Regions from separate parts of the Homo sapiens genome. Here region 1 is linked to region 2. The links come from fine-mapping of genetic effects on gene expression. A gene starts in region 2. The other region holds a variant in brackets. All regions are shown on one strand. Distances are from middle to middle.

The links.
Region 1: its variant is fine-mapped to the expression of ZNF880 in caudate (GTEx, PIP above 0.99). The same link has a PIP of 0.9 or more in nucleus accumbens.

Annotation. Positions count from the first base shown.
Region 1 is chr19:52,386,819-52,402,037 of GRCh38, forward strand. It overlaps ZNF528-AS1 (ZNF528 antisense RNA 1), which reads right to left and starts at 10,939. Exons shown (of 7, transcript NR_125345.1): 1 at 10,644-10,939; 2 at 10,377-10,449; 3 at 9,792-9,934; 4 at 9,547-9,681; 5 at 8,780-8,932; 6 at 7,973-8,029; 7 at 2,021-2,485. It overlaps ZNF528 (zinc finger protein 528), which reads left to right and starts at 11,031. Exons shown (of 7, transcript NM_032423.3): 1 at 11,031-11,086; 2 at 11,549-11,801; 3 at 14,867-14,935; 4 at 15,129-15,210. The coding sequence starts at 15,196. It also overlaps a transcript of ZNF880 not described here. RefSeq lists an enhancer at 10,343-11,542. The variant A/T (reference allele first, on the strand shown) is at 6,015.
Region 2 is chr19:52,362,231-52,377,449 of GRCh38, forward strand. It overlaps ZNF880 (zinc finger protein 880), which reads left to right and starts at 7,693. Exons shown (of 4, transcript NM_001145434.2): 1 at 7,693-7,747; 2 at 10,881-11,007; 3 at 12,069-12,197. The coding sequence starts at 7,736. ZNF610 (zinc finger protein 610) reads left to right here. Exons shown (of 6, transcript NM_001161425.2): 6 at 3,468-5,548. The coding sequence ends at 4,537. RefSeq lists enhancers at 7,375-7,674, 7,685-7,794, 7,995-8,134.

The DNA of each region.
Region 1 (15,219 bases), 25 kb after region 2:
AAAATAGTGGTCATTTTTGAAATGGAAGAGAGAACAGTTGATTAGAGAATTTAAACTACCAGTATGCCATGTTCTTGAGTAGCATTTACATTTAACTGTTGGCATAATTTCCAACTGTTTGATTTAGAATGTACATAGTTCTCATGTTTTAATTAATAAAATTTTCCTAAGTATGAATGAATCACATCATTTCTACCAATTGTTTTAGTCCCCCTTAGGAGAATATACTGCACAGTAATGCAACATTAATAGTAAATACTCTGCAATTTGGTTTTCTTTGTCTTCACACTGAGTTATGTAGCAGTGATATGTGTCTAATCACTCTAACTTTAGTGTAAAATAGGCATTTTTAAAAAATGCACCATTAAGGTTGACGCATCCAGAACAATTTTGTGTGTGTGAAATCAACATATGCACACACTTGTGGTGCATATCCTTGGGTAAGTATAATTTACACTAATCATACTTAATACTTGAGTTATTCTTTCTGTGCCACTTCAGCCTCCTACACCCTCAAAAGTCCATGAAACATTCACTGTTCATTATATTTCTACGTGCCTATTGTGTGCCAAGGAAGACTCATGGCATGCACCTTAATTTTTATGAAGCAAAAATACAAATATATGACAAATACTTTTTTTTTTTTTTGAGACAGTGTCTTGCTCTGTCACCCAGGCTGGAGTGCAGTGGCACAATCTCGGCTCACTGCAACCTCTGCCTCCCGGGTTCAAGCAATTCTCCTGCTTCAGCTTCCCTAATAGCTGGGACTACAGGCGCACGCTGCCACGCCCAGCTAATTTTTTGTATTTTATTAGAGACGGGGTTTCACCATGTTGCCCAGGCTGTTCTCGAACTCCTGAACTCAGGCAATCTGCCTGCCTCGGCCTCCCAAAGTGCTAGGATTACAGGCGTGAGCCACTGTGCCTGGCGACAAATACTATTAAATGAAAGAAAGTATGTTAATAAGAGTGAAAATACTGTACCACAATGTCTTTTTTTTCCTAGTAGTGCATGTCTTTTTTTTTTTTCCTAGTAGTGCTCAGTGACGTAAGTGGAAAATATTAATGTTCATAAATTTTCTTTTTTTTTTTTTTTTTGAGACAGAGTCTGGAGTGCAGTGGCACGATCTCGGCTCACTGCAACCTCCACCTCCCAGGTTGAAGCAATTCTTCTGCTTCAGCCTCCCAAATAACTGTGACTACAGGCGCGCACCACCACGCCCGGCTAATTTTTGTATTTTTAGTAGAGACAAGGTTTCACCATATTGGCTAGGCTGGTCTCAAACTCCTGACCTTGTGATCCACCCGCCTCGGACTCCCAAAGTGCGGGGATTACAGGTGTGAGCCACTGCGCCTGGCCCATAAATTTTAAGAATGGTCACATAGAATGGGAGTTTTTTTTGCTTTTGTAGATTAACTAGAAACTTCATATACTTCCCCTTACAACATTTTTGGCAATTTGAACTTTTTTTTTTTTTTTTTTTTTTTTAGGCAGAGTCTCTGTCACCAGGCTGGAGTGCAGTGGCGCGATCTTGGCTCATGGCAACCTCTGCCTCCCGGGTTCAAACGGCTGCCTCAGCCTCATGAGTACCTGGGACTACAAGCGTGCACCACCACGCCCAGCTAATTTTTGTATTTTTAATAGAGACAGGGTTTCACCATGTTGGCCGGGATGGTCTTGATCTCTTGACCTCGTGATCCACCCGCCTCAGCCTCCCAAAGTACTGAGATTACAGGTGTGAGCCACCATGCTTGACCGATAATTTGAACTTTTGACTGCTGTACTGGAATTTGTTTGAAGTCCACCTAAAGTTTGTATTATATATTGAGAATGATGATGCCATACACTGATATGGTCTGCAAATGTTTACTACATAAACATTTACATGAGGCTTTCTGGGGAAAGCAGGATGGACTTCCCCAGCTGGTCCAAATTGGAGAACAGGGATAGGTGAGCAGCCTGGGATGTTGTATTAGTCTGTTCTCATGCTGCTAATACAGACATACACAAGACTAGGTAATTTATAAAGAAAAAGAAGTTTAATGGACTCACAGTTTCACACGGCTAGAGAGACCTCACAATCATGGCAGAAGGTGAAGGAGGAGCAAACACATGTCTTACGTGGTGGCGGGCAAGAGAGAGCCCGTGCAGGGAAACTGCCCTTTATAAAACCATAAGATCTCATGAGATTTATTCACTATCATGAGAACAGCATGGGAAAATCCCACCCCCATGATTCAGTTACCTCCCCCCGGGTCCCTCCCACATGTGGGGATCATGGGAGCTGCAATTCAAGATGAGATTTGGTGGGGACACAGCCAAACCATATCATTTTGCCCCTGGTCCCTCCCAAATCTCATGTCCTCACATTTCAAAACCAATCATGCCTCCCCAACAGTCCCCCAAAGTCTTATTTCAGCATTAACTCAAAAGTCCACAGTCCAAAGTTTCATCTGAGACAAGCAAGTCTCTTCTGTTTATGAGCCTGTAAAATAAAAAGCAAGTTAGTTATTTCCTAGGTACAATGGAGGCACAGGTATTGGATAAATAACGCCCGTTGCAAATGGGAGAAATTGGCCAAAACAGGTCACAGGCCCCATGCCAGTCTGAAATCCAGCAGGGCAGTCAAAGCTCCAAAATGATCTCTTTTGACTCCGTGTCTCACATCCAGGTCACACTTATGCAAGAGGTTGGTTCCAGTGGTCTTGCAGGGAACCCATGTCTGCCCCTGTGACTTTGCAGGGTACAGCTCCTCTCCTGGCTGCTTTCACAGGCTGGTGTTGTGTCTGCTACTTTTCCAGGCACATGGTGCAAGCTGTCGGTGAATCTACCATTCTGGGGTCTATAGGAGGGTGGCCCTTTTCTCACGGCTGCACTAGGCGAGTAGTGAGTAGTCTGTGTGGGGGCTCCAACCCCACATTTTACTTCTGCACTGCTCTAGCAGAGGTTCTCCATGAGGGCTCCGCCCCTGCAGCTCACCTCTGCTCCAGTTCCAATAAAGTTCCTCATCTCCATCTGAGACCACCTTCAGCCTGGACTTTTTGGTCAGAACCATTCAACAACCATTTTCTAGGAAGCTCCAAACTTTCCCACGTCTTCCTGTCTTCTTTTGAGCCCTCCAAACTGTTCCAGCCTTTGCCTGTTACCCAGTTCAAAATTTGCTTCCACATTTTGAGGTATCCTTATAGCAGCACCCCACTCTATACCATTACCAATTTACTGTATTAGTCTGTTCTCACGCTGCTAATAAAGAAATACCCGAGACTGGGTAATTTATGAAGACAAAGAGGTTTAATGGACACAGTTCCATGGGGTCGTGTCCCCCGTGCTTCTGCCACAGGGCCATATAGACAGCTCTTATCGCGGAGTTTTCCTGCCTCAAATCCTTCAGTGTCCCCTGCACTGGCCCGCACCTTTTTTAAAGTCCTCACCGCAAGGTTGATTCCCGCCCTGGGAGCTTCCCATCTGCTCCGCTCCCTCGTCAGCTCCTGGAGCGCAGCGACGCAGCCCCAGTCCCAGGGAGGCCGTGAACTCTTCCTGGTCCTGGGATCCTGCAGACCCTGCCCCTCTCCTGACTTTCTCCTGCCTTTTTCCTCCTTGATCGGGGGCCCTTCTGCTCCCCAGGCCTCCCCTTCTCCTGATATCGAGTGTGGGGACGTGACTTCTATCTCAGGACGTTAAGGTTTCTCTTGTCCCAAATTCCATCCCACAGGAAATGGGCTCTTGAGGTGGGGATCTGACTGCAGTCCCCTCCCTATGAATGTGTGGAGGAGAGGAAATAGAAAAATGGTGAAATGGGAAAGAAGAATGAAGGAGACCCATAAACAGACGGCAGCTGGGTGCGATGGCTCACGCCTGTAATTCCAGCACTTTGGGAGGCTGAGGCGGGCAGATCACCTGAGGTCAGGAGTTTTGAGACCAGCCTGACCAACATGGAGAAACCCTGTCTCTAAAAAATACAAAATTAGCCAGGCATGGTGGCGAATGCCTGTAATCCCAGCTACTCTGGAGACTGAGGCAGGAGAATCGCTTTTACCCGGGAGGCGGAGGTTGCGGTGAGCCAAGATCGCACCATTGCACTCCAGCCTGGGCGACGAGCAAAACTCCATCTCAAAAAACAAAAAACAAAACAAAACAGATGGCAAAGTAGATGGTGGATGAGGGATTTGCAGAGACAGTGCATGAAGATGCTGAGAAAGGAGCAGGGGGAGAAAAGCAACTAGAGAAATTTAGAGAAAAACTGGGTTTCTAGAGAGATAAAGTTCAGCAAGATAGGGAGAGGGGCAGAAAAGGGGAGGCTCCTCAGATGGAGAGTTGGGGAGAGAAGGAGGGATTTGGAGCCAGGGCAGACAGAGCAGCATGGTGCTGGGAGAGCAAGAGGGGCAGCCAGTGATAAGGAGAGCACAGGGAGAACCACAGCCTGGGGAGAACTGGGATCTGGGGATGCCAGAGAGGGGACAGGTGGATATAGCAGGGAAGAGGGGATTTAACAGGGGAAGCTAGGGGGCAGCAGAGACGGGGGGAAGAAAGAGGCAGAACTATATGAAAATTGGAGACAAATATTGGGCAGAAAGAAGAATAAGAGGTGAAAGAAGTGAGAAAGGAGCAGAACAAGTGGAAGAGAAGGAATAGAGGGAAGAGCAGGAGAAGGAAGAAGGGCTTGAAATGAGGAGAATCCTAGGGGAAAAATAAAGAGAAAAAAAAAGCTAGGAAAAGAAGGTGAGAATGAGAGGTAGGTAGAGAAACACACAGTAATGAGGAAAGAGGGGGACACTCAATCCAGATGAATGATGAATTGATTGGATATTATGATTAATTTCTCTATAATAAACATCACATTTGTTTAAAATATACAGATGAAGATGAGAATTGGAAAACTGTCTATAAGGCATGTGCATTTCCTAATTCTTGGTATCAGAGGTTAGCTTCCATTTGCTGTCCTTATTCTGCCAGACGGCAGGCAGTGACTTGACTCATTCAGGTATGGGTCACTATCTTCACTTCTGGGATGGGGTAGGGTGTGTGAGTGTATAAGATAGGAGGAAAAACCAAAGTGTTTTTTCTACTCACAATCAACACAATAGTGAATGCTCAACACAGAATGCCTCATCTCCGGTCATCAAAATGTGTGGGGATTACTTCCCACCAACAAGCTATTTTTCATCAGATAAAAACTGGGTGTTCTCTAATTGAACTCAATTTGACACCATTTATAGGGAGTTAGCATTAGATCTCACAGGAGGCTGAGGGCTCAGTTGCACAAAACTGCCCCCAGAATTTGCTATTGCTAGAGTGATTTACACAACTTGGAGAAACAATTTACTGAGGTGTACCATTTGTTATAAAGGATGTTACACAGGACACAGATCAACAGCCAGATGGAAGAGCATTCCTAATAAATTAATGGAAACAGAAGTATGTTTTGGAAACCATGGACTGACTTTCTTTCTCTTTCTCTCTTTCCTTCCTCCCTTTCTCTCTCTCTTTCTTTTCTTTCACTTTGACGGAGCCTCGCTCTGTCACCCAGGCTAGAGTGCAGTGGTGCTATCTCAGCTCATTGCAACCGCCACCTCCCGGGTTCAAGTGATTCTCCTGCCTCAGACTCCCAGGGAGCTGGGATTACAGGCGTCCACCACCAAACCTGGCTAATTTTTATATTTTTAGTAGAGACAGCATATTGCCACGTTGGCCAGGCTGGTCTCGAACTCCTGACCTCAAGTGATCTGCCTGCCTCGGCATCCCAAAGTGCTGGGATTACAGGCCTGGGCCACTGCACCCAGCCCAGGGCTTGAGTTTTAAAGGTGCCACAGTACACCTTGGTTCTCTTTTTTTATAAACAGGAATCTGTCTTCCTGACCTGAGTATTATCTCTATGTGGGAGCAAAGGAGAGAGCCCTGGACTCTGGAGAGTGAAGGGAAAATAGCAAAAAAATCCAGATGGGAGGGAATGGATCAAAGGTGTGAACACAGGTAAGAGCTCAGATGGGCAGAGTGGAAGCTGTATATATATATAT[A/T]TTTTTTGAGAGACAGGGTCTTGCTCTGTTAGCCAGGTTGGAGTGCAGTGGCAATCATAGCTCACTGCAGCCTGGAACTCCTGGGCTCAAGTCATCCTCCTTCCTCTGCCTCCCAAACTGGTGGGATTACAGGTGTGAGCCACTGCACCCTGCAAAGCCACACTAATAAATAGTGTTTGGGAAACTCTGCAACTGGGAGAATTCTGTGGAAAACCAATAGTATAAATCCTGTTAGTTTTTTTTTTTTTTTTCTTTTCTGAGACAGAGTCTCACTCTGTTGCCCAGGCTGGAGTACAGTGGCGCAATCTCGGCTCACTGCAACCTCTGCCTCCCAGGTTTAAGCTAGTCTCCTGCCTCAGCCTCCTGAGTAGCTGGGATTACTGGTGCCTGCCACCATCCTTGGCTAATTTCTGTATTTTTAGTAGAGAGAGGGTTTCACCAAGTTGGCCAGGCTGGTCTCGAACTGCTGTCCTCATTTGATCTGCCCGCCTCAGCCTCCCAAAGGGCTGGGATTACAGGTGTGAGCCACCATGCCTGGCCTAAATCCTGTTAGTTTTGAATGGAAATTTTCTTTCTTTCTTTTTTTTTTTTCTGGGACAGATTCTTGCTTCGAGACAATGACAAATACAAACTAGGTTTACTGTAAATATGAGAAAGGGAAAAAATACTTTTATTGTATTAGAAGACTTGAAATCACATGAAGTGATACCAATCTTTTGTTGTTGTTGGTCAGATGTTTTAGCTATTTTAGGTGTTTGGGTTTTTTGTCTTTCTACATAACTGCTAACCTTGTTAGTATCTGCAGAATGCCTTAATTAGGAAAGGTATTAACCCTATGTGTCAGATTTGTATAATTCATATTGCTTTACATGGAGTCTTCCAATAAATGTATATGGTATATGTCTCTATTTGCTGTCTTTGATTTCTTTTATCAGCATTTGGTAGTTGTAACATAACAGTTCTATGAATGTTTTGTTTCACATGTATTTCTTTGCCCCCCCCCTTTTTTTTTTTTTTTTTTTGAGACGGAGTCTTGCTCTGTCGCCCAGGCTGGAGTGCAGTGGCGCGATCTCAGCTCACTGCAAGCTCCGCCTCCTGAGTTCACGCCATTCTCCTGCCTCGGCCTCCCCAGTAGCTGGGACTACAGGCACCCGCCACCACACCTGGCTAATTTTTTTGTATTTTCTTAGTAGAGATGGGGTTTCACCGTGTTAGCCAGGATAGTCTCGATCTCCTGACCTCGTAGTCCACCTGCCTTGGCCTCCCAAAGTGCTGGGATTACAGGTGTAAGCCACTGCACCCGGCCTCTTTGACCTTTTTCTTAATGGAGCAATCATACATAGTATTTTATTTTTAATATCAGGTTTCATGTGCAAATTGCTAGTGTATAGAAATATACAAGATTATTATTATTATTATTTTGAGACAGGGCCTTACTCTGTCATCCTGGCTGGAGTGCAGTGGAGCAATCTCAGCTACTGCAACCTGTGTCCTGCAGGCTTAAGTCATCCTCCCACCTCAGCTTCCCCAGTAGCTGGCACTGCAGGCATGTGCCACCATGGCCTGTTAAATTTTTGTGTTTTGTAGAGATGGGGTTTCACCATGTTACCCAGCCTGGTCTCAAACTCCTGAGCTTGAGTGATCTGCCTGCCTTGGCCTCCCAAAGTGCTGGGATTACAGGCACGAGCCACCATGCCTGGCTGATGAAATATACGATATTTTTGTAGGTTGACCTTATACTTTGCTACCTTTACATTTTTCTTGTTCTAGAGATTTTTGTAGATTTTTTTGGAATTTTCTACATAAAATCATTTCATCAGTTTCCTATTGCTATACACAGTGATTGGCTTAAAACAAGAAAAATTTATTCTTTTATAATTCTGTAAGTCACATATCTAATATGGGTCCATAGTTCTGTGATTCTTCATTAATCTCCAGGGGAGAATTTGTTTCCTTACCCTTTGTAGGTTCCAGAGGCCACTTACATCCTTTGACTCATGGTCCACTTCCTCCATCTTTAAAGGTGAGAAAAAAAATCTCTTTATCCCTCTATTTTCAACACATCACCACTGTCTCTGTCCCTTCGCATCCACCTGCACCCTTCTGATATTGAACCTTGTGATTCTATCACTTTGACCATATAATTCAGGATGTCTATCTAAAGATCCTTATCTAGACCACATTTGCAAACTCCCTTTTGATATATCCAGTAACACAGGTCATAGGGATGTAGCTACCTTCCTTTGGGAAAGGTATTAGCCTGCACAACCAACATATTTTCTGTTGGTACACTATTTTTTTTGTCCTGTCCTCAGGCCACCCTCCTTCCTCAGCCTCCCAAAGCACTGTGATTACAGGCCTCAGACACCACACCCAGCCTGTCACTTTTATTTCTTTTTCCTTTATTTCACTGGCTGGAACCTTTCATATTGTGTGGAATAGTAGTGATAAGAGGGGACATTCTTGCCCTCATCCCAACCTCTAGGGGAAACTATGCTTTCACCAGTTTGTATGATGATTCTGATTCTGTAAGGATTGGTAGGTGATCTTGAGTTGAGGAAGTTTCCCATGATACTGCTTTCCATACTGACCGCAGTATTTCAGATTCCCACAAAATGTACGAAAATAGTTTCTCCACATCCTTGCTTGTGAAGCAGGTTCACTGCACACTGGTTGCCAATGTGTCTGAGTTGAGTGAGAGATAATCTCACGGACACACAGTAAGTTACATGAAGTGAATTTGTTACATACAGATCGGCAGATACCTGGGATTCATGCATTCTGCTCCCCAAGGCTCAGGAAAACCACCCAGTGCAGATGCAGTCTCTCTGTATGTGTTCAACTTGCATCACAGCTGTGGGAGGCTGGAAGGCGGCCCATCCTGGGTTTCATGCTCCAGGGATGCATGGCACGTTGGCCTAAAGCAACAAAGGGGATCCTGTTCTGGGGATCTGGAACACATCCTGTCCTTTTCTCACCGGTCCCTTCCTCTCAGGATGTTGCTTTTCCAGCACATTCTATATTCATTCTTGGGAACTACAAGTGAGAAGTCAGATGCAACTGGGCCAATTCAACCCCACTTGAATGCTGTCCTGCAGTCTCTCCGCCAATCCAGATATCCCTTTTATTTTTATATTTTTTGAGACGGAGTCTCGCTCTGTCTCCCAGGCTGGAGTGCAGTGGCGCAATCTTGGCTTACTGCACCTCCACCTCCCAGATTCAAGCAATTCTTGTGTCTCAGCCTCTCGAGTAGCTGGGACTACAGGCGTGTGCCACCATGCCTGGCTAATTTTTTTTTTTTTTTTTTTTGTATTTTTAGTAGAGACTTCGTTTCACCATGTTAACCAGGCTGGTCTCTAATTCCCGACCTCAGGTGATCTGCCCTCCTCGGCCTCCCAAAGTATTGGGATTACAGGCGTGAGCCACCACGCCTGGCCCAGATATCCCCTTTAATAAAGCTAGTCCATTTACATGTGCACTGACCTCCCTGGATCTGGAGGTAGAGGCTGGTCTCAGGAGATTGAAGTAATACCTCGACTGGCAGAATCTCAGGGCAACATCATTGAGGTACAGCCAGTTGCATTTCACTAGGCTCAAGAGGATTGCTGCCTCAAGCAGGATAACCAGGCCTGCCTGGAGCAGTGCCGTAGTCCAGGATCCCAGTGACCTAGGTGAGAAGTTGGTACTCAGATCAAAGAAAAGTTCTTCAGGTGACCCCACTGTCTGCAGCCAATGGGCCTGCTTGTGGGCCTTATGTATTTGTGTTTCAAAAATAACCTGAGGGCTTGATGTGGGGGTCCTTATCTCCCATGCAAGGTGATTCATGCCTATAATCCGAGCACTTTGGTAGGAGCAGATGGGAAGACTGCTTGAGGCTAGAAGCTGGAGACCAGCCTGGGCAACAAAACCAGACTACATCTCTATTAAAAACAAAGCAACAAACAGTAGAAAATTAGCACAGTGGAGAGGCACAGGCCTTTACTCACAGCTACTCGGCAGGCTGAGACAGGGGGTCACCTGCCCAGGACCCCAGGAAGTCAAGGTTGCAGTGAGCTATGATTGCGCCACTGCATTTCAGCCTCGGTGGCAGAGACCCTGTCTTAAAATTTTAAAAAGTATTAAAAAACTAAGTTGGACCGGGCGTGGTGGCTACTCTGGAGGCTGGGGCAAGAGAATCACTTGAACCCAGGAGGCGGAGGTTACAGTGAGCTGAGTGCCTGCCACTGTACTCCCGCCTGGGGGACAGAGGGAGACGCTGTCTCAAAACAACAACAACAACAAAAAACTACGTCGTTTATGGCTATTTTTATAAGTTACTGGCTTTTTTTTTTTAAAGAATCGGTGACTTATCTTCACACTGGCCTTAGTCCTCCATGCCCAACACGATGTCCCTAGGAAAGTCTCTGGAATTGAGCACAGGGTTGACCTTCACCGTCTAGAGTGAATGGGGAAGATAAATGAAAAGTATTTATCTTCTATGGGCACTGGCATGAAATAGAACATTCTACCCTGGCAGGGTTTTGCATTTCACATTTTAGCTTGCATCATCCCCTTCACAGACAATTCCAAAGTGTGTTAATTCAATTCCTAAAGCTTCCCTTCCCTTCCTCCCTTCCCTTCCCTCCTTACTTTTCTTTCTTGTCCATTTATTTTCGGTTTTTTTCTCTTTCTTTCTTGGTTTTCTTTCTCTTTTTCAACTTCTCTTTCTTTTCTCTTTCTCTTTACTCTCTCTCTTCTCTCTCTTTCTGCTTCCAGGGTAGGTGGGACTTGAAATTCATTTTAATAGAAGGAATTTTCGTGGATATAATCTACAACCGATTTTGCTCTGCGCAGGTAAGATCCGTTTTCAGACCAAAACCCTGAAAACAAGCGCAGCCAGTCAAGCGAACGGAAGCGCAGGCCCGGCCCAGGCTTTGTCCCGGCCCGCCCTGGTCCCAGCCAGTCCGGCCTCTAGGATGCGCGCGCAATTTCGTGCAAACCCGGAAGCGGACCGCGGGGGGCGAACGCCTAGAGCGCAGTTTCCGGTAGACCCGGAAGCCGATTGCAGGGAGAAACTGTTTTCGCAGCAGTGCGTGAGTTTCCCTTTGTCTATGTTAAGTCTAGGCTAGCCAGTTCTTCTCTGCTTCTATACCCGGGAGCTGAGGGGCATGCAGACCTTGAAATCCCGGCACCGCTCCCTCCACCCCGAGTAAATTCAGACATCCTTTGAGAGTCTGGGAGTCGCTTTCTGCGTGTTAAAATCGCTTGGAGGCTGGTCGTGTGCCCGGTCTTTTTGTCATTTACCCACGTAGACACCTCCTATCGTGGGGTTTACCTGCTTCAAATCCTTTAGTAACCCCTACACACGCCCCGCACCACGTAAAATCCTCACTCTCCGTTCCCCTAGCCTCGCCCTTCTTTGCCCCTAGAGCTCAGCGCCCCAACAGGGCACGAGAGGCCTCGTCCTCTGCCCAGACCTGGTTTCTGCAGACTCCACCCCTCTCCTGACCCACTCCTGCCTTTTTGCTCCTTAATCTGGACCCTCTGTTCCCCAGGCCTCCCTTTTCCAGCCACCGGTTCTCCTGACCCCGAGTGTGGGGGGTGACTTCAGTCTCCTGACATCCAGTGTTCTCTCGAGCCAGTTTCCAGCCCACAGAAAATGAGCTCTTCCGGAAGTGGGCATCTTATTCCAATCCCCTCCCTGTGAATGTGTGGAGAAAAAGAGATGGGAACGAGGCAGAGGAAATAGAGAAATTTTGAAAGAGAAATGAAGAATGAGAGACCCATTAACAGAAGGCAAAGTAGAAGGTGAGTGAGGGGTTTGCAGAGGCACAGTGAAAGAAGGTGCCGAGAAAATAGCAGGGGAGAAAAGTAACTGTAAAAATATAGACAAACCTGGGTCTGTAGAAAGACGAAATTCAACAAGATAGGGAAGGCTTCTCAGACAGAGGGGGGAGAGGAGGAGGGATTTGGAGCCAGGTCAGACAGAGCAGCGTGGTGCTGGGACAGCCAGAGGGGGCAGCTGGTCACAAGGAGAACAGGGAGAACCACAGCAGGGGGAGGCCTGGGATCTAAGGGTGCCAGAGAGTGGGGACAGGGGTGTGTAATATCGAAGATGGAATTTAACAGGGAGACCCCAAGGGGAGCTGAGATGTGGGAGGAAAGAGGCAGAAATATATGGAGATTAGGGACAATGAAAGATTGGGCAGAAAGAGGAATAAGAGGTGAAACAAGTTGTAAAAATGGATCAGAACAGGTGGGAGAGAAGGAATAGAGGGAAGAATGGGACAAAGAGAAGAGGAGGGACTCAAAATGAACAGAATCCTAGGGGAAAATAGAGAAAAAAAGAGCTAGGAAAAAAGATGAGAATGAGAGATATGTACAGAATGAGGCAGGGAAACAGTAGTGAGGAAAGAGGGGGACCCTGGTTACAGATGAGTGGTGAGTTGATTGGAAATTATGATTGAATTGTGACATATTAATTTTTCTATAATATAAAATTTGTTTAGAACACATGAGGCTAGGAGCTGTGGCTCACACGTGTAATCCCAGTACTTTGGGAAGCTGAGGTGAGCGGATCACTTGAGGTCAGGAGTTGAGACCAGCCTGGCCAACATGTGAAACCCATCTCTAGTAAAAATACAAAAATTAGCTGGGCCTGATGGCCTGCGCCTGTAATCCCAGCTACTCTGGAGGCTGAGGCAGGAGAATCGCTTAATCCTGGGAGGCAGAGGTTGCAGTGAGCCGAGATCGTGTCACTGCACTCCAGGTTAGGTGACAGAGCAAGACTCCATCTCAAAAAACAAAAAACAAAAAACCACACATGAAGATGAGAATTGGAACACTATTTATAAGGCACTCTTCTCTTTTCTTGGGATGGACTAGGGTGTGAGTGTATAAGTTAGGAAAAACCAGTGTGTTTTTGTGTTCACAGTGAACACAATAAAGAGCGCTCAACACAGAATGCCTCATCTCTGGTCACCAAAGTAATATGGGAATTACTTGTCACCAACAAGCAGTTCTTCGTCAGACAGCACCTGGGTGTTCTGTAATTTTACTCAGTTTAACTGGTCAGTGTAGGAACAACCACAGACACATTTTGATCACTAAAGGTGAGGGATTCTCCTTTGGGTGTGAGAGTAGTAAAAACAGTGTGGTTTTTTCCTGTCTCAAACAGTAAGGGGAAGAATTTTCCAACAGGCCCACTCACCTGTCTCTAGGACTGTGTTCTTAGTAGTGACTGGGAATTGTCTGTCCCTGCTCCTGGCTGCTGCTGATGCTGAGACTGTGTGCCACAGGCCAGCCCCATTCACTCTCTCCTGATGCCACGGCATCCCTCCTCCACAGTGTCATCAGATTTTACTTCAAGGGAATTATTTTGGTCAGCATACCCAGATGGAGTTGTTGCCCATTAAAACACACACACACACACACACACACACACACACACACACGCCTTTATTTTTTCCACTATTTCATCCTCAGAAGAAAAAACAAAGTATTAGCTACATTTTTACTTGCAATAAGTATGCCTTTTCTGTGCTCCATGTAAGAGCACAATATACCAAAATCTTGTTTAGGCGCTCTCTCACTCTTTCCTCCATTTCTTGCTTGACCCCATCCAATCAGGTTTTGACACCAACCATTCCACTGCTCCTTTTTTTATCTGAGTCACCAGTGACTTCTCTGTTTCTAAATCTAGTTATTTATTTATTCATTTAATTTTTAGAGACAAGGTCTTGCTCTGTCACCCAAGCTGGCATGCAGTGGCACAGTCATAGTTCACCATAACCTCAAACCCCTAGACTCCAGCAATCCTCCCGTCTTAGCCTCCAGAGTAGATAGGACTATGGGCCTGTCCCTCTGCGTGGCTGATTGAAAAAAAAATTTTTTTTTTTGAGACAAAGTCTCACTACATTGCCCAGGCTGGTCTTGAACTCCTGACTTCTAGCCATCCTCCTACAAAGAAGTCCCAGCATGCTGGGATTAGAGGCATGAGCCCTTTACCCTGCTTAAATCTGACTTTGAATTTTCTGTCCTCCTGTCTTTTTCTGTCAGCAGCATGTTTCACAGCTGATCACTCTTTTTTTTCGCAGCTTTGAAGACATTGCTTGTATTTTTAAAAATCTGTTTAAAATTTTTCTCATTACTTTCGTATCTTATCAGTTTCCTCTGCTGCTGTCTCCTGAAGTGTCTTCTCTGAATATGGAAATGTCACCCAATTTAGTCCTTAAACCTGTTCTGTCTGCCCACACCCTCAGCTTTTCCTTTTGATCTCATCTATGGTTTTAAACACCACCAACATGTCTCCATTTTCCCTCTTCACCCACCCCTCTCCCCTGAATTCCAAAATCCTGTGTCCAGTCATGTTCTCGACATCTCTGCTGGGACATCCACAGGCATCTCCACCTCCACGTGTCCAAAATAGGCTTCCTGAACTCCCCCAGACATGTTCTCCCTACAGTCCTGCATAGCTCAGATGACAGACACCTTCTACTTTCTGGGGATTAACTAAACCTGTCAGAATGTGCTTAAAATATATGAGATACTATTTGTGTTTTAATTTCTAAGGTACAGAATAAGTGACATATTTACTTAAAATGAGTGAGGAAATAGATTGTTTCAAAATTTCTTTTGATGTGTAGGAGAAAATATTTGAAGAGCTCAGCCCTGCCTGATCTGCTTCCCCAGGACCTCTCTGACCTCATCTCCTGCCTCTGTTCTTCCCGCTCCCTCTACTGCAACTACACAGCCCCCTTTCCTTTTCTGAGAGCGTTTTGTATTTTTAAAATAAGTGCTTGATCAAAGTATGATTTTAGGAATCACAGTTTATTACCACATGAAGAATTGCTTTTTTTTTTTTTTTTTTTTAGGTTCACAAATTTTAAGAAAGGGAGAATAAAGTGAAAAAAATCTCAGAAGGAATCCACTCAACAGACGAGGTACCTTAACCACATAATGGTTGATTTCCAAAATTATTAACATCTGCTTGCTCAGTTAGGATAAATCAGACCTATGTAGAAAGTCAAAGTTTGAGGATTACCTCAGGGTGAGGTCTTCCCTTTGTGTGTGGCTATGGCACAGGAAGGAGGTATGTTGATTCTAAGCCCTAAGCAGCATATTTTTGACATTCAGGATTCACTTCCAAAGAGACATATTATGCAAGGAAGCAACTTGGAAGAGGAAAGAAAAGAAGTCAGGAATGGCCCTTACTCAGGTAAGGTAA
Region 2 (15,219 bases):
TAAAACCCCGTCTCTACTAAAAATACGAAAGTTAGCTGGGCATGGTGGCACACGCCTGTAGTCCCAGCCACTGGGGCGGCTGAGGCAGGAGAATCAGTTGAACCTGGGAGGCGGAGGTTGCAGTGAGCCGAGATCGCACCACTGCACTCCAGCCTGGTGACAGAGCGAGACTCCATCTCAAAAATAAATAAATACATAAATTTTGTAGAGATGGTGTCTTGTATTGTTGCCTGTGCTGGTCTGCAACTCCTGGCTTGAAGTACTCCTCATGCCTCAAACTCCCAAGTGCCGGGATTATAGATGTGAGGCATCATGCCTGGCCATTTGTTTATTTTTAATGTAAGCACACATTTTTGTTGCATTTTATAAGTTCTGGTGTGTTCTGTTTTCCTTTCCTTTTCTATCAAGATATTTTAAAAATCAGTTTGTGGTTTCTTTTTTGACCTATTGGTTTTTTAGATGTGTTGTTTCATTTGGACATATCTGTGGGTTTTACATTTCTTTCTGTTAATTTTGTTTTATTACATTATAATGGGAATCAATACTTTGTAGACTTCTAAATGTTTAAAAGATTGTTTTGTGTCATAACATGAAGTCCATCCTGGAAACTGTTCCATGGGCACTTCCGAAAAATTTGTATTCTGCTGTTTTTAGGTGATGTGTTGTGTATACGTCTGTCATATCTAATGAGGCTATAGTGATGTTTGAGTCCTGTTTTCTTCTTCTTCTCTTTGATTTTTATTTATTTATTTTTATTTTTTAGTTTTAAGGAGCAGGGAGTTTAATAGGCAAGAAAGAAGGGGGAAGAAAGAAAGAAGAAGCTCCCCTGTACAGAGACAGAGTGAGGGGGGCTCCAAAGCCGAGAGACAGAACCCCCTTCTCTTTGGTTCTATCCCCTTTTTTTTTTTTTTTTGAGACATAGTCTCACCCTGTTGCCTACCCAGGCTGGAGGGCAATGGTGTGATCTCAGCTCACTGCAACCTCCACCTCCCAGGTTCAAGCGATTCTTATGCCTCAGCCACCTGAGTAGCTAGGATTACTAGAATGCACCACTGCATCCAGCTAATTTTTGTAGTTTTAGTAGAGATGGGGGTTTCGCCATGTTGGCCAGGCTGGTATCAAACTCCTGGCCTCAAGTGATCCTCCTGCCTCAGCCTCCCAAAGTGCTGGGATTACAGGTGTGAGCCACCCTGCCTGGTCACCTTGTTCTATCCATTTTTGAAAATGAAGTATTGAAGTCTACTACTATATCGTGGAGCTATCTGTTTCTCCTTTGAATTTTGTGAATGTTTCCATCCTATACTTAGGGGCTGTGATATTTGGTGCCTATATATTTATAGTTGTTATATCTTCTTGGTGAATTGAACCCTTCATCATTGTATAATAACTTTTCTTTCTTATACTGGTTATTGAGTAAACGTCTGTTCTCTTTGATTTTAATATAGACACCTCTGTGCTCTGCTGGTTACTATTTGCATGGAATATCCTTTTCCATCCTTTCAGTTTCAGCCAATTTATGTCTTTAGAGTTAAAGGGAGTCTGTCGTGGATAGGATTTAGTTGGATCCTGTTTTGTTCTGATTCCAATGGGAAATCATTTGTATTTCACATACTCATAGAGAAGGCCTTAATAGTGCCATCTTGTCACATATTAGCTGTAGATTTTGTAACATCTTGTAGATTTTTTTGTCCTTCATTTTTCCCTTACTGCCTGCTTTTGTATTTTGTTGGTTTTTTAATTGTGACATGCTTTGATCCCCTTCTCATCTCCTCTGGTGTATGTTTGTAGATTTTCCTCTTGTGGTTAAGATTGAAGTTACATAAAACATTGTAACAATAAAACATTATTTTAAAATGTCAACAGCTTAACCTTGATTAGGTACCGAAAGCATTACATTATAGCTGTGCTATTTGTTATTGTGCTAGAAGTTCCTTCTATATATGTAATATTCCCATTAACACATTTTAGTGCTTTTTAAATAATTTTGCCTTTGAAATGCTAGGAAAGAAAAGCCAAATTACAAATGAAAAGTACAATAATGCATGATTTTTTTGTTTTCTTTTTTAATTTTTTTCTCATACAGTGTCACTCTCAGGATACTATGTTTCCATATTTGATCATTTATTGACCTTTAATGGAGAACTTTATATTTTCATTTGGGTTAGAAGTACTGTCTGGGGTCCTTTTATTTCCTTTTGAAGGATTCCCTTTAACATTTCTTGTCAGACAGTTCCAAGGTACTAATTACCTTCCTCAGCTCTTCTTTATTCAGGAACGTGTAAATTTCTCCTTTATTTTTGCAAGCAAGTTTTGCTGAATATAGTATTCTTGGTTTTTTGTTTGTTTGTTTGAGAAGGAGTCTCGCTCTGTCGCCCAGGCTAGAGTGCTGTGGCGCGATCTTGGCTCACTGCAACCTCCATGCCCCGCCTTCCCCCATGTGAGGTTCAAGTGATTCTCCTGCCTCAGCCTTCCAAGTAGCTGGGATTACAGGCATGTGCCAGCACAGCCAGCTAATTTTTGTGTTTTTAGCAGAGATGAGGTTTCACCATGTTGGCCAGGCTGGTCTTGAACTTCTGACCTCAGGTCATCAATCCACCTCAGCCTCCCAAAGTGGTAGGATTACAGGTATGAGCCACTGCACCCAGCCGTATTTTTTTTTCTTTAAGCACTTTCAACATATCATCATCTTACTGCCTTCTAGCCTGCAAGTTTGCTTTAAGATGTTTAATGATAGGCTGGGCACGGTGGCTCACGCCTGTAATCTCAACACTTTGGGAGACCAAGGCAGGCAGATTGCCTGAGGTTGGGAGTTTGAGACCAGTCTGGCCAACGTGGTGAAACCCCGTCTCTACTAAAAATACAAAAAAATTAGACGAACGTGGTGGCGTGCGCCTGTAGTTCCAGCTACTTGGGAGGCTGATGCAGGGGAATTGCTTGCGGAGGTTGCAGTGAGCTGAGGTGGTGCCACTGCACTCCAGCCTGGGGCAACAGAGAGAGACTCCGTCTCAAAAAAAAAAAAAAAAGAATTGTGACAGGTGTGACAGGGAGACCTTTCCCAATTAGCCTGTTGTAAAGGGTGTGGGAACACCTCACTCCTGGGATTGTGTCTCTCCTAGCTTTATGCGTATATTATACTATTACTAATGTCTATACAACTGCTCTTAAATGTCTTATTTTCTCTAAGAGGCTCATCCCTGCTTTTTCTGAGAAGCTTTCAGTTTCTGTTCTATTTTTCTGCCCTTAATCTTTCTCAAAGTCACTCATAATCCTCCCGAGTCCTGCAGATTCCCCACTGCTCCAATGCATCACGTCACCCCCTTGTGTTTTCAGCTCTCACAATGTGACATGCAAAGTATGCCGATACTTCTTCCAGTGTCTGAGTTGGGTGAGGCTGATTCTGGTCCCTCCACCAGACGGTAAACATGCCAGAATCATGGGTTCATGTTCTACTCTTTCTTCTTTTCTAGGGAGGAGCTGTGTATTGGGAAGCAATGCAGAAAACAAGCCTATTAAAAATCAACTTGGATTAACCCTTGAGGCACATCTGTCTGAATTGCAGCTGTTTCAAGCCGGAAGGAAAATTTACAGAAGTAATCAAGTTGAAAAGTTTACAAACCATCGTTCCTCAGTTTCACCACTTCAAAAAATTTCTTCTAGTTTCACAACACACATTTTTAATAAATATAGAAATGATCTTATTGATTTCCCATTACTCCCACAAGAAGAGAAAGCATACATTAGAGGAAAATCTTATGAATATGAATGTAGTGAAGATGGTGAAGTTTTTAGAGTCCGTGCAAGCCTTACTAACCATCAAGTAATCCATACTGCAGAGAAACCTTACAAATGTACTGAATGTGGCAAGGTCTTCAGTCGCAATTCACACCTTGTAGAACATTGGAGAATTCATACTGGACAGAAGCCTTACAAATGTAGTGAATGTGACAAGGTGTTTAATCGCAATTCAAACCTTGCACGACATCAAAGAATTCATACTGGAGAGAAGCCTCACAAATGTAACGAATGTGGCAAAGCTTTTAGAGAGTGTTCGGGACTTACTACCCATCTTGTAATCCATACTGGAGAGAAACCTTACAAATGTAATGAGTGTGGCAAGAACTTCAGGCACAAATTTTCTCTAACCAATCATCAGAGAAGTCACACGGCGGAAAAACCTTACAAATGTAATGAATGTGGCAAGGTCTTTAGTCTGCTTTCATACCTTGCACGGCATCAAATAATTCATAGTACAGAGAAGCCCTACAAATGTAACGAATGTGGAAGAGCATTTCACAAGCGTCCGGGCCTTATGGCCCATCTTCTAATCCATACTGGAGAGAAACCTTACAAATGTAATGAATGTGACAAAGTCTTTGGGCGCAAATTATACCTAACCAACCATCAGAGAATTCATACTGGAGAGAGACCTTACAAGTGTAATGCATGTGGCAAGGTCTTCAATCAAAATCCACACCTTTCACGACATCGGAAAATTCATGCTGGAGAGAATTCACTGCGTACCTTACAGATGGAATGAATGTGGCAAAATCTTTAGTTAGAATTCACACCTAGCACAACATTGGAGGACTCAGGAGAAAAACCTTACAAATATCATAAATGTGGCAAAGAATTTAGTTTGCATTGAAGCCTCATCACTCATCTCTTGATCCACACTGAAAGGAAACCCTACAAATGTAAAGTTAATAACATATATAAATAATCTATAAAGAGAGAACAGTTATATCAGAATAGAGCATTTAATGAAAACTACCAGTATAGCATATTCTTGAGTAGGATTCACATTTAACTGCTGGCACCGTAATTTGTAACTCTTTGATTTAGAATGTACATACTTCTCATGTTTTAAGTAATAAAGTTTAAAGTTTTTTTTTAGTTTTTTCTTTTTTTTTTGAGACGAAGTCTCGCTGTATTACCCAGGCTGGAGTGCAGTGGCATGATCTTGGCTCACTGCAACCTCCGTCTCCCGGATTCAAGCAATTCTCCTGCCTCAGCCTCCTGAGTAGCTGGGATTACAGGCATGTGCCACTACTGCCCGGCTAATTTTTGTATTTTTAGTCGAGACGGGGTTTCCCTCCGTTGGCCAGGCCGGTTTCAAACTCCTGACCTCAAGTGATCCACTGGCCTTGGCCTCCCAAAGTGCTGGGATTATAGGTGTGAGCCACAGCGCCCGGCCTAGTTTAAATTTTTCTTAGTGTGAATGAATTACATCCTTTCTACCAGCGTTGTTTAATCTTACCTCAGGAGGATACTTTATAGTAGAGAATAATAACCCATTATGATTTTAAGGTTGAAGCAGCCAGAAAAGTGTGTGTGTGTGTATGTGTGTGAGACATAAAACAACATACGCTTCTGGGTGCAATATACTTAAGTAAGTATGATGTTGAGTAATTACACTTAGTACTTGAGTTAGTTTCTCTGTACTCTGGTGTAGGATGTTTATGTGGGTAAAGTCAAAATCACTTTAATAGTACAATTTCAGCCTTGTACACCCTCAAATGTGTGTGAGTGTTAAAGAGTATGCCCTGTATTGTGTTTCTACATGCCTCTTTCTTGTGTGCCAAATAAGAACTATGGTGTGCACCTTCATTTTCATGCAGCAAAAATATATAGTAATATGACAAATATTAGGAAATAAAGTATGGGTTGAGGGCAAAAATACTGTAACATGGCCGGGCCTGGTGGCTCACGCCTGTAATCTCAGCACTTTGGGAGGCTGCATTGGGTGGATCACGAGGTCAGGAGATTGAGGCCATCCTGGTCAACATGGTGAAACCTTGTCTCTACTAAAAATACAAAAAAAAAAAATTAGCTGGGCCTGGTGGTGTGCACCTGTAATCCCAGCTACTTGGGAGGCTGAGGCAGGAGAATCGCTTGAACCCAAGAGGCAGAGGTTGCAGTGAGCTGAGATCACCCCACTGCACTCCAGCCTGGTGACAGAGCAAGGCTCCGTCTCAAAAAAAAAAAAATAATAATAATACTGTAACACAATTTCTTTTTGTACTTCTAGTGTTCAGTGACATCATTTGAAAATATTAATGTTCACCCATCTTCTTTTTAAGTCACACACAGAAAGGGAATTTTGTTTTGGTACATTAACTAGAAACTTCATATAGTCACCCTCACAACTCTTTTGGTAATTTGAATTTTTGACCACTCTTCTGGAACTTGTTTGAAGTCCCCCTAAGGTTTGGCTTGGATCTTGAGAATGATGATCCCATACACTGATATGGTTTGAGAGTGTTTATTATATAATGAGGCTCTGTGGGGGAAAGCAGGGTATACTTTTCCAGCTGGTCCAAAAGTGGCTTCAGAGAACTGGGATAGGTGACTGGCTTGGGGTGTCATGATTGCTAAAGGGTAGGGCTGGGGCGGGGATACCCACTACCCATACTGGAAACTTAGTTACAATTCACACCTAGCATGTATATTTTTATATTTTTTGTATGTATATATATTTTTACATTTTTTTCCTACATTGCCTCCAAATTCTATGTTTAATACATTTCTTCCCTGTTTTGCTCTGGTGAAAACTTTAGGGGACAAATAAATGAGTGCTGTTTGGAGACAAAATTTTGTGACATGGGACTGGGCATTGTGGCGTGTGCCTGTAGTCCCAGCTACTTGGGAGGCTGAGATGGGAGGATCACTTGATGCCAGGAGGTCGAGGCTGCAGTCAGTGAGCTGTCTGCACTTCAGCCTGAAAGACAGAGGGAGACCATCTCAAAAAAAAAAAAAAAAAAAAAAAAAAAGTTGTGACCTGAGTATGTCCATAAGACAATGGCAGGTATACACTAGGATTAATATAAATATGAAAAAAAAAAAAAAACTTGGCCGGGTGCGGTGGCTCACGCCTGTAATCCCAACATTTTGGGAGGCCAAGGCAGGCGGATCACGAGGTCAGGAGTTCAAGACCAGCCTGGCCAACATGGAGAAACCCTGTCTCTATTAAAAGTACAAAAAAGTAGCCCGGTGTGGTGGTGGGCGCCTGTAATCCCAGCTACTCGGGAGACTGAGGCAGGAGAATCGCTTGAACCCAGGCGGCGGAGGTTGCAGTGAGCCGAGATCGCGCCACTTCACTCCAGCCTGGGCAAAAGAACGAAACTCTGTCTCCAAAAAAAAAAAAAAAAAAAAAAGGAAATTGCACATTCCGCCCTGGCAGGGTTTTGCATTTCATATTTTAATTTGCATCCCCTTCATAAACAATTCAAGGACTTTAAAATTCCGGAAACTAGTGTTTATTATTCATTTATATTTATTTATTTTAATTATTTATTTCCAATTTGTTATTTATGATTATGTATTTATTAGGCGCAAGGTTTCTCTCTCATGCCCAGGCGGGAGTGCAGCGCACGACCTCGGCTCACTGCAGCCTCCACCTCATGGGCTCAAGCGATCCTCCCACCTCAGCATCCGGGTAGCTAGGACCACATGCGAGCGCCCCTACAGCCGATTTAAAATTAATTTTAATAGCAGGAATTTTCCTGGATCTAATCATCAACAAACTTTCCCTCTGCCGGGACACAATCTATTTCCAGATAGCTGAGTTCTTCCAGTCTCCACGGCAGGTCTAGCCTCCAAAACGAGACGAGCTGGGAGCGAGGCGGAGGGAAGCGCAGGCTCCGCCCAATCCCACCCGGGCCTGGCCTCGCCTCGCCTCTCAGCTGCGCGCGCAGTTTCCTGGAGACCCGGAAGCAGATTACGTGGAGTGACGGTCATGCTGCGGCGTGTGAGTTTCCCTTTGTTTAGATTAAATCTGGGATGCTGAGTCCCCTCGCGCTTCTGTACCCGGCATCTCAGGGGTCACACAGACCTTGAAATCCCCGCATCGCTCCCTCCACCCCGACTAAACTCAGACGTTCTAATGAGAGTCTGGCGGTCGCTTCCCTGAGTGTTAAAATCGCTCGGAGGCTGGTCCTGTCCCCGGTCTTTCACCACAGGGCCATGTAGACAGCTCCTGTCGCGGAGTTTGCCTGCTTCAAATCCTTCAGTGACCCCTAGACACGGCCCGCGCTGCGTAAAGTTCTCACCCGCGAGATGGATCCACGTCTTTCCGGTCCCCCAAGCCTCGCCCTCTTTTCACAGGCCTGCCCCCTTTTCTGTGCCTTAAATGAGAGGAAATCGATCTGATGTTTACTGCTGATTGTGATGTTTCAGCCTCCATTGGGCTTTTGCTAACACCTAAATAAATATTTAGTGGACAAAATTAGGTTAGTGCAAAAGTAATGGCAAACCGCGATCACTTTTGCACCAACCTAATATTTATGGGCCGGGGCTGGAATTCCATCTTCTCCGGAGGCCCAGGCTGGAGAATTCCTTGAGCACAGGAGTTTGAGACCACTCTGGACAACATAGTGAGACCCCCATCTCAATTTTTGAAACATATGTTTCAGTACGGGTATTTAATAGAGATTGGAATTCTCGTTTCTATGTTTTTACATGGTCTGACTTTTTGAAATAGTTTGAAATAATGTTTATAAACTGAATTGAGCACAGTTTATACATTTTTATTGTTGCAAACATGCTGAAATGCACATTTGCAAAAACAACGACAGCCAGGCACAGTGGTGCACGCTTGTCATTCGAGTTACTCGGAGAGGGTGTCATTTGAGGCCAGGAATTCAAGGCTGTAGTGTGCCATGAATAAGCCACTGCACTGCAACCTGGACACATTAAAAAACGAACAAAGACAAATATCTAAAAAAGAGGTTATTGACAGACAACTCTTTCAGTTGTCACATATATGTTTACTAGAGTATATGTGTGTGAATGTATATATGTATATGAATAAGTGTGTACATGTGATGTGTGTGGATGAGTGCACAGATGAGCAAGTCTATTGTTTTTATCAAAGGCGCATCATCAGTTTATATACGTCTTATATCTTTTAACAGTTGAAATTACATCTTATATATTTTCATGACCTTAAAATTGTTCTACACTGTTATGATAGTGAGTCTATGGCTGTAAGGATAGTAACCTGTTATGGGGATACATGTGCGACAGTTTCTTGATTTTAATCCCGGAACTTATTTTAACTATACTCAGTTAGGTCATTGTCTGTCAATTTACTTTTGATGCTGATCTGTTATTGTTTGATGTTTTTTTTTTTCTTTTTCTGAGATGGAGTCTCTCTTTGTCACCCAGGCTGGAGTCTCGCTTTGTCACCCAGGCTGGAGTGCAGTGGCACCATCTCAGGTCACTGCAAACTCTGCCTCCCGGGTTCAAGTGATTGTCCTGCCTCGGCCTCCCAAGTAGCTGGGATTACAGGTGCCCACCAGTACGCCTGGCTAATTTTTTTATTTTCGGTAGAGATGGGGTTTCACCATGTTTGCTAGGCTGGTCTTCAACTCCTGACCTCAAATGATCCACCTGCCTTGGCCTCCCAAAGTGCTGGGATTGCAGGCATGAGCCACCACGCCTGGCCTAATTCTTAAAGTTTGATTCTAATGCCCAGACTCCTGGGATCTGGCGCTTACTCTGCCATTTTTAGCCTTCACACCTGGGGCAAGTTTCTTAGAATGTCTGAGAAAGAGTTGTCTCTTCAATAGGATGGGAACAGATTGTTCTTTTATGGGCTTTTGTTGTTATAGCCGTTAGTACATGTACAACATTTAGAAAGTGCCTGTCACATGGGAGGTGTTCAAAAGCTTCATCCTGGCTGGGTGAGGTAGCTTACGCCTGTAATCCCAGCACTTTGGGAGGCCGAGGCGGGAGGATTGCTGAGGTCAGGAGTTCAAGACCAGCCTGACCAACATAGTGAAAACCTGTCTCTACTAAAAATAGAAAAATTAGCTGGGCACAGTGGTGGGTGCCTGTAGTCCCAGCTACTCGGGAGGCTGAGGCAGAAGAATCACTTGAACCTGGGAGGCGGATGTTGCAGTGAGCCAAGATTGTGCCACTGCACTCCAGCCTGGGCAATAAAGTGAGACTCCATCTAAAAAAAAATTATATATATTGTATCTGACGCTTCTATAGAAATAACTGTGGGTTAATTTTTTGTATTTCTTATGTTGTCCACAAAATTAGAAATCTCTACTAATTTTTTTTTTTTTTGGAGACAGAGTCTCGCTCAGTTGCCCAGGCTGGAGTGCAGTGGCACCATCTCGGCTCACTGCAAGCTCCGCCTCCCAGGTTCACGCCATTCTCCTGCCTCAGCCTCACGAGTAACTGGGACTACAGGCGCCCGCCACTACGCCTGGCTAATTTTTTTGTATTTTTAGTAGAGACAGGGCTTCACCATGTTAGCCAGGATGGTCTCGATCTCGTGACCTCATGATCCACCCGCCTTGGCCTCCCAAAGTGCTGGGATTACAGGTGTGAGCCACCGCGCCCGGCCTAGAAATCTATACTAATTTAAAGAATATCAGGTTGGGCATGCAGTGGCTCATGCCTGTAATCCCAGCACTTTGGGAGGCCGAGGTGGGCGGATCACGAAGTCAGGAGATCGAGACCATCCTGTGTAACATGGTGAAACCGCATCTCTACTAACAATACAAAAAAAAAAAAAAATTAGCTGGGCGTGGTGGCGGGCGCCTGTAGTCCCAGCTACTCGGGAGGCTGAGGCAGGAGAATGGCGTGAACCTGGGAGGCGGAGGTTGCAGTGAGCCAGGATCGCGCCACTGCACTCCAGCTTGGGCGACAGAGCGAGACTCCGTCTCAAAAAAAAAAAAAAAAAAAAAAAAAGAATGTCATAACTTCTAATGGAGAAGTATATTAAAACACAATTAGAAACATATAACTAGCTAAAAAAATACCTTAACGTGGATTTGTCAGAACATCCACTTCAATCAAGTCAGTCCTTACAACTGTCTCCTCATTTTGTGTGATATCCTGTTGGTGAAATGTGTTTTTCATTTTAGGGACACTTGGCATTCAGGGACGTGGCCATAGAATTCCCTCAGGAGGAGTGGAAATGTCTGGACCCTGCTCAGAGGACTTTATACAGGGAAGTGATGGTGGAGAACTACAGGAACCTGGTCTTTCTGGGTGAGGATAATGTCCCTTCAGAAGTCAAGATCTGCCCTGGTGTATTTTTGCATTTTGTCGTGTGCCTCTTAGCATCTTAGGAGTCACTGTATTGCTTGACTGAGATTGAAACCCTGTTGACTCAGAAATGAAAACCTCCATAATGCTTTATAATGCTGTATTTTTCAGAAACAATAAGCTCCATAATACTTTCTGGACTTAAAATAATTGCTTTCTTCAGAATTCTGGCCCCTTTGAGATTCATCATTGAGTGGTACCAGGGCTTAAGTATGCGTCAAACCTTATGACAGACTTAAGATATACAGTTCTGTGTTATCCACCCCTGTGCTTATTATTTATTAGTTCTTGTAAGAGAGCTTGATGTCTGCATGTTACAATGTTCCCTCAGCATTCAGAAGGAGGCAGTGGATGAATTCATGTGAAATACTGTAATTTTTTTTTTTTTTTTTTTTTTTGAGACAGAGTCTCCCTGTGTTGCCAGGCTGGAGTGCAGTGGCAGGATCTCAGCTCAATGCAACCTCCGCCTCCCGTTTTCAAGCAATTCTGCCTCAGCCTCCCGAGTAGCTGGGACTACAGGCACGTGCCACCACGCCTGGCTAATTTTTGTATTTTTAGTGGAGATGGGGTTTCACCATATTGGTCAGGCTAGTCTTGAACTCCTGACCTCGTGATCCGCCCACCTCGGCCTCCCAAAGTGCTGAGATTATAGGCGTGAGCCACCGTGCCTGGCGAAATACTATTCTTGATTCATTTATAATATCCTCTCTCCTACCTAGACATGGGGCTTGCATTTTGGAGATGCCACAGTACACATTTATTCTTTCTTTTTATTATTATTATTTTTTTGAGACAGAGTCTCGCTCTGTCGCCCAGGCTGGAGTGCAGTGGCGCGATCTTGGCTCACTGCAAGCTTCGCCTCCCAGGTTCACGCTGAGTATCTGGGACTACAGGCACCCGCCACCACGCCCCGCTAATTTTTTTTTTTTTTGTATTTTTTAGTAGAGATGGGGTTTCACCGTGTTAGCCAGGATAGTCTTGATATTCTTTCTTTTTTTAAATAGGAATCTGTCTTCCTGACCTGAGTGTTATCTCCATGTTGGAGCAAAGGAGAGATCCCCGGAATCTGCAGAGTGAAGTGAAAATAGCAAACAATCCAGGTGGCAGGGAGTGCATCAAAGGTGTGAACGCAGGTAAGAGCTTGGATGGCCAGAGTGGAGGCCCCATAATTTTTTTTTTTTTTAAACAGGGTCTTGCTCTGTCACCCAGGCTGTCGTAGAGTGGCAATCATCAGTGGCAATCGTGGCTTAACTCATAGCCTCAAACTCCTGGTCTCAAGTGATCCTCCTTCCTCTGCTTCCGAAAGTGGTGGGATTACAAGCATGAGCCACTGTACCCTGCAAAACCACACTTTGAGTTTCTGTTTGGGAGCTCTCTGCAAGTGAGAGAATTCTTTGGGAAAATAAAAGTTTAAATCCTGTGAGTTCTGATTGAAGTTTGTTTTGTCTTGTTTTGTTGAGACAAGTTCTTGCTCTGTTGCCCAGGCTGGAGTGTAGTGGTGGTGTGATCGTAGCCCGTGTACCCTCAGTCTTTGGGCTCATATGATCATCTCACCTCTGCCTGCCAAGTCACTGGGACTGTAGGCATGTGCCATTGCATCTTGCTAATTTTTAAAAAATCTTTTGTGGAGATGAGGTCTCACTAGGTTGCACAGGCTTGTCTTGAACTCCTGGCCTCAACTATTCTTCCCACCTGGCCTGCCAACGTGCTTGGATTGCAGGCATGACCCACCATGCCTGGCCTAGAAGGGAAATTTTTCTTTGCCCCCTCTTACTGCTGCTGTGTTCTTTGTTTTTGGCGTTTTGTTTGTTTGCTTGTTTGTTTTTGAGATGGAGTCTCACTGTGTTACCCAAACTAGTATTGGTTTTTTTTTTTTAATTTTTAATTTATTTTTATTAATTTATTTTTTTGAGACAGAGTCTTGCTCTGTCGCCCAGGCTGGAGGGCAGTGGCACGATCCTGGCTTACTGCAACCTCTGCCTCTCAATTTCAAGCCATTCTCATGCTTCAGGCTCCCAAGTAGCTGGGATTACAGGCGTGCACCACCAAGCCTGGCTAATTTTTTTTTTGTATTTTTAGTGGAAACGGGGTTTCACCATGTTGACCAAGCTGGTCTCGAACTCCTGGCCTCAAGTGATCCACCCACCTTGGCCTCCCAAAGTGCTGGGATTACAAACATGAGCCACTGCTCCCGGGCATAATGTTATTATTATAATTATTTCAATAGGGTTTTGGGGAACAAGTGGCATTTGGTTACGTAGATAAGTTCTTTAGTGGTGGTTTCTGAGATTTTGGTGCACCCATCACCCGAGCATTGTACGCTACATTCAATATATAGTCTTTTATCCCTCACCCCCCTCCCACCTTTTCCCCCAAGACCCCAAAGTCCATTGTATCGCCTTTGCATCCTCCCAGTTTAACTCCCACTTATGAGTGAGAACATACAATGTTTGGTTTTCCCTCAGGCTTTGGGCTCATATGATCATCTTGCTCTGCCTGCCAAGTCACTGGGACTGTAGGCATGTGCCATTGCATCTTGCTAATTTTTAAAAAATGTTCTGTGGAGATGAGGTCTCACTAGGTTGCCCAGGCTTGTCTTGAACTCCTGGCCTCAACTATTCTTCCCACCTGGCCTGCCTAAGTGAGTTAGTTCATTTAGAATAATGGCCTTCAATTCTATCCAGGTTGCTGCAAATGCCATTATTTCGTTCCATTTTATGGCTGAATAGCATTCCATATTAGTATGCCACATTTTCTTTATCCATTTGTTGATTGATGGGCATTTGAGCTGGTTCTCTATTTTTGCATTTGTGAATTGTGCTGCTATAAACGTGTGTGGAAGTGTCTCTTTTGTATAATGACTTCTTTTCCTCTGGGTAGATACCCAGGAGTGGTTTTGCTGGATCAAATGGTAGATCTACTTTTAGTCCTTTAAGGAATCTCCCCGCTGTTCTCCATAGTGGTTGTACTAGTTTCCATTCCCACCAGCAGTGTAAAGTGGTCCCTTTCACCACATCCACACCAACATGTAGTATGTTTTGATTTTTTGATTATGGCCATTCTTGCAGGAGTAAGAGGGTATTATATTATAGTTTTAATTTGCATTTCTCTGATAATTAGTGATGTGGAGTCTTTCTTCATATGTTTGTTGGCCATTTCTGTATTTTCTTTTGACAATTGTCTATTCATGTCCTTAGCACCGCCCCCCCCCCCCCTTTTTTTTTTTTTTTTTTGAGACAGCGTCTTGCTCTGTCGCCCAGGCTGGAGTGCAATGGCATGATCTCGGCCCCCTGCAACCTCCACCTCCCGAGTTCAAGCAATTCTCCTGCCTCAGCCTCCTGAGTAGCTGGGATTACAGGTACCCACTGCCAAGCCCAGCTAATTTTTGTATTTTTAGTAGAGACGGGGTTTCATTATGTTGGCCAGGATGGTCTCAAACTATTCACCTCAGGTGATCCACCCGCCTTGGGCTCCCAAAATGCTGGGATTATAGGGGTGAGAGACTGTGCCCGGCCCTTAGCCCACTTTTTGATAGGATTGTTTGTTTTTTTCTTGCTGATTTGTTTGAGTTCCTTGTAGATTCTGGATATTAGTCCTTTGTCAGATACATAGTTTGCAAAGATTTTCTCCCATGCTGTGGGTTGTCTGTTTACTCTGCCGATTATTTCTTTTGCTGTGTCATAGGCAAAGTCTTTATCATGATGGACAACACCCTGTCATATGGCTTATGAGAATTCTTTGATTCCATCATTCTGAAGGACATAGGGAGGGCTGTGTCAAAGGGGTCTCTTTTTCCCATGGTCTCTGTTTCTGTAGTGATTTTATCTGATGCTAAGTTTATACATCAAACCTGGGGTCTGCATAGACCTGCCTCCTTGACCTGTGTATGGTCCACACAATTTCCTATATGAGGAAGACCTCATCAGAAGATAGGAAAACATTGGCTGCTCTTTTTTTTTTGCATGTGGGGCTCAAAGATTGCATGAAGGCGTCTCAACCCCTCTTTGCCTCTTGAGGTCTTGTGGAGATAGGGAAAATCCAGTGTTTTTTCTACTCTCAAATGCCACTCAGCAGAGAGCGCTTCACTTCTGGTCAACCGAATGGGTGGGGATTTCTACGCACCAACAACCAGTTTTTCAGTGGCCATCTAATAGT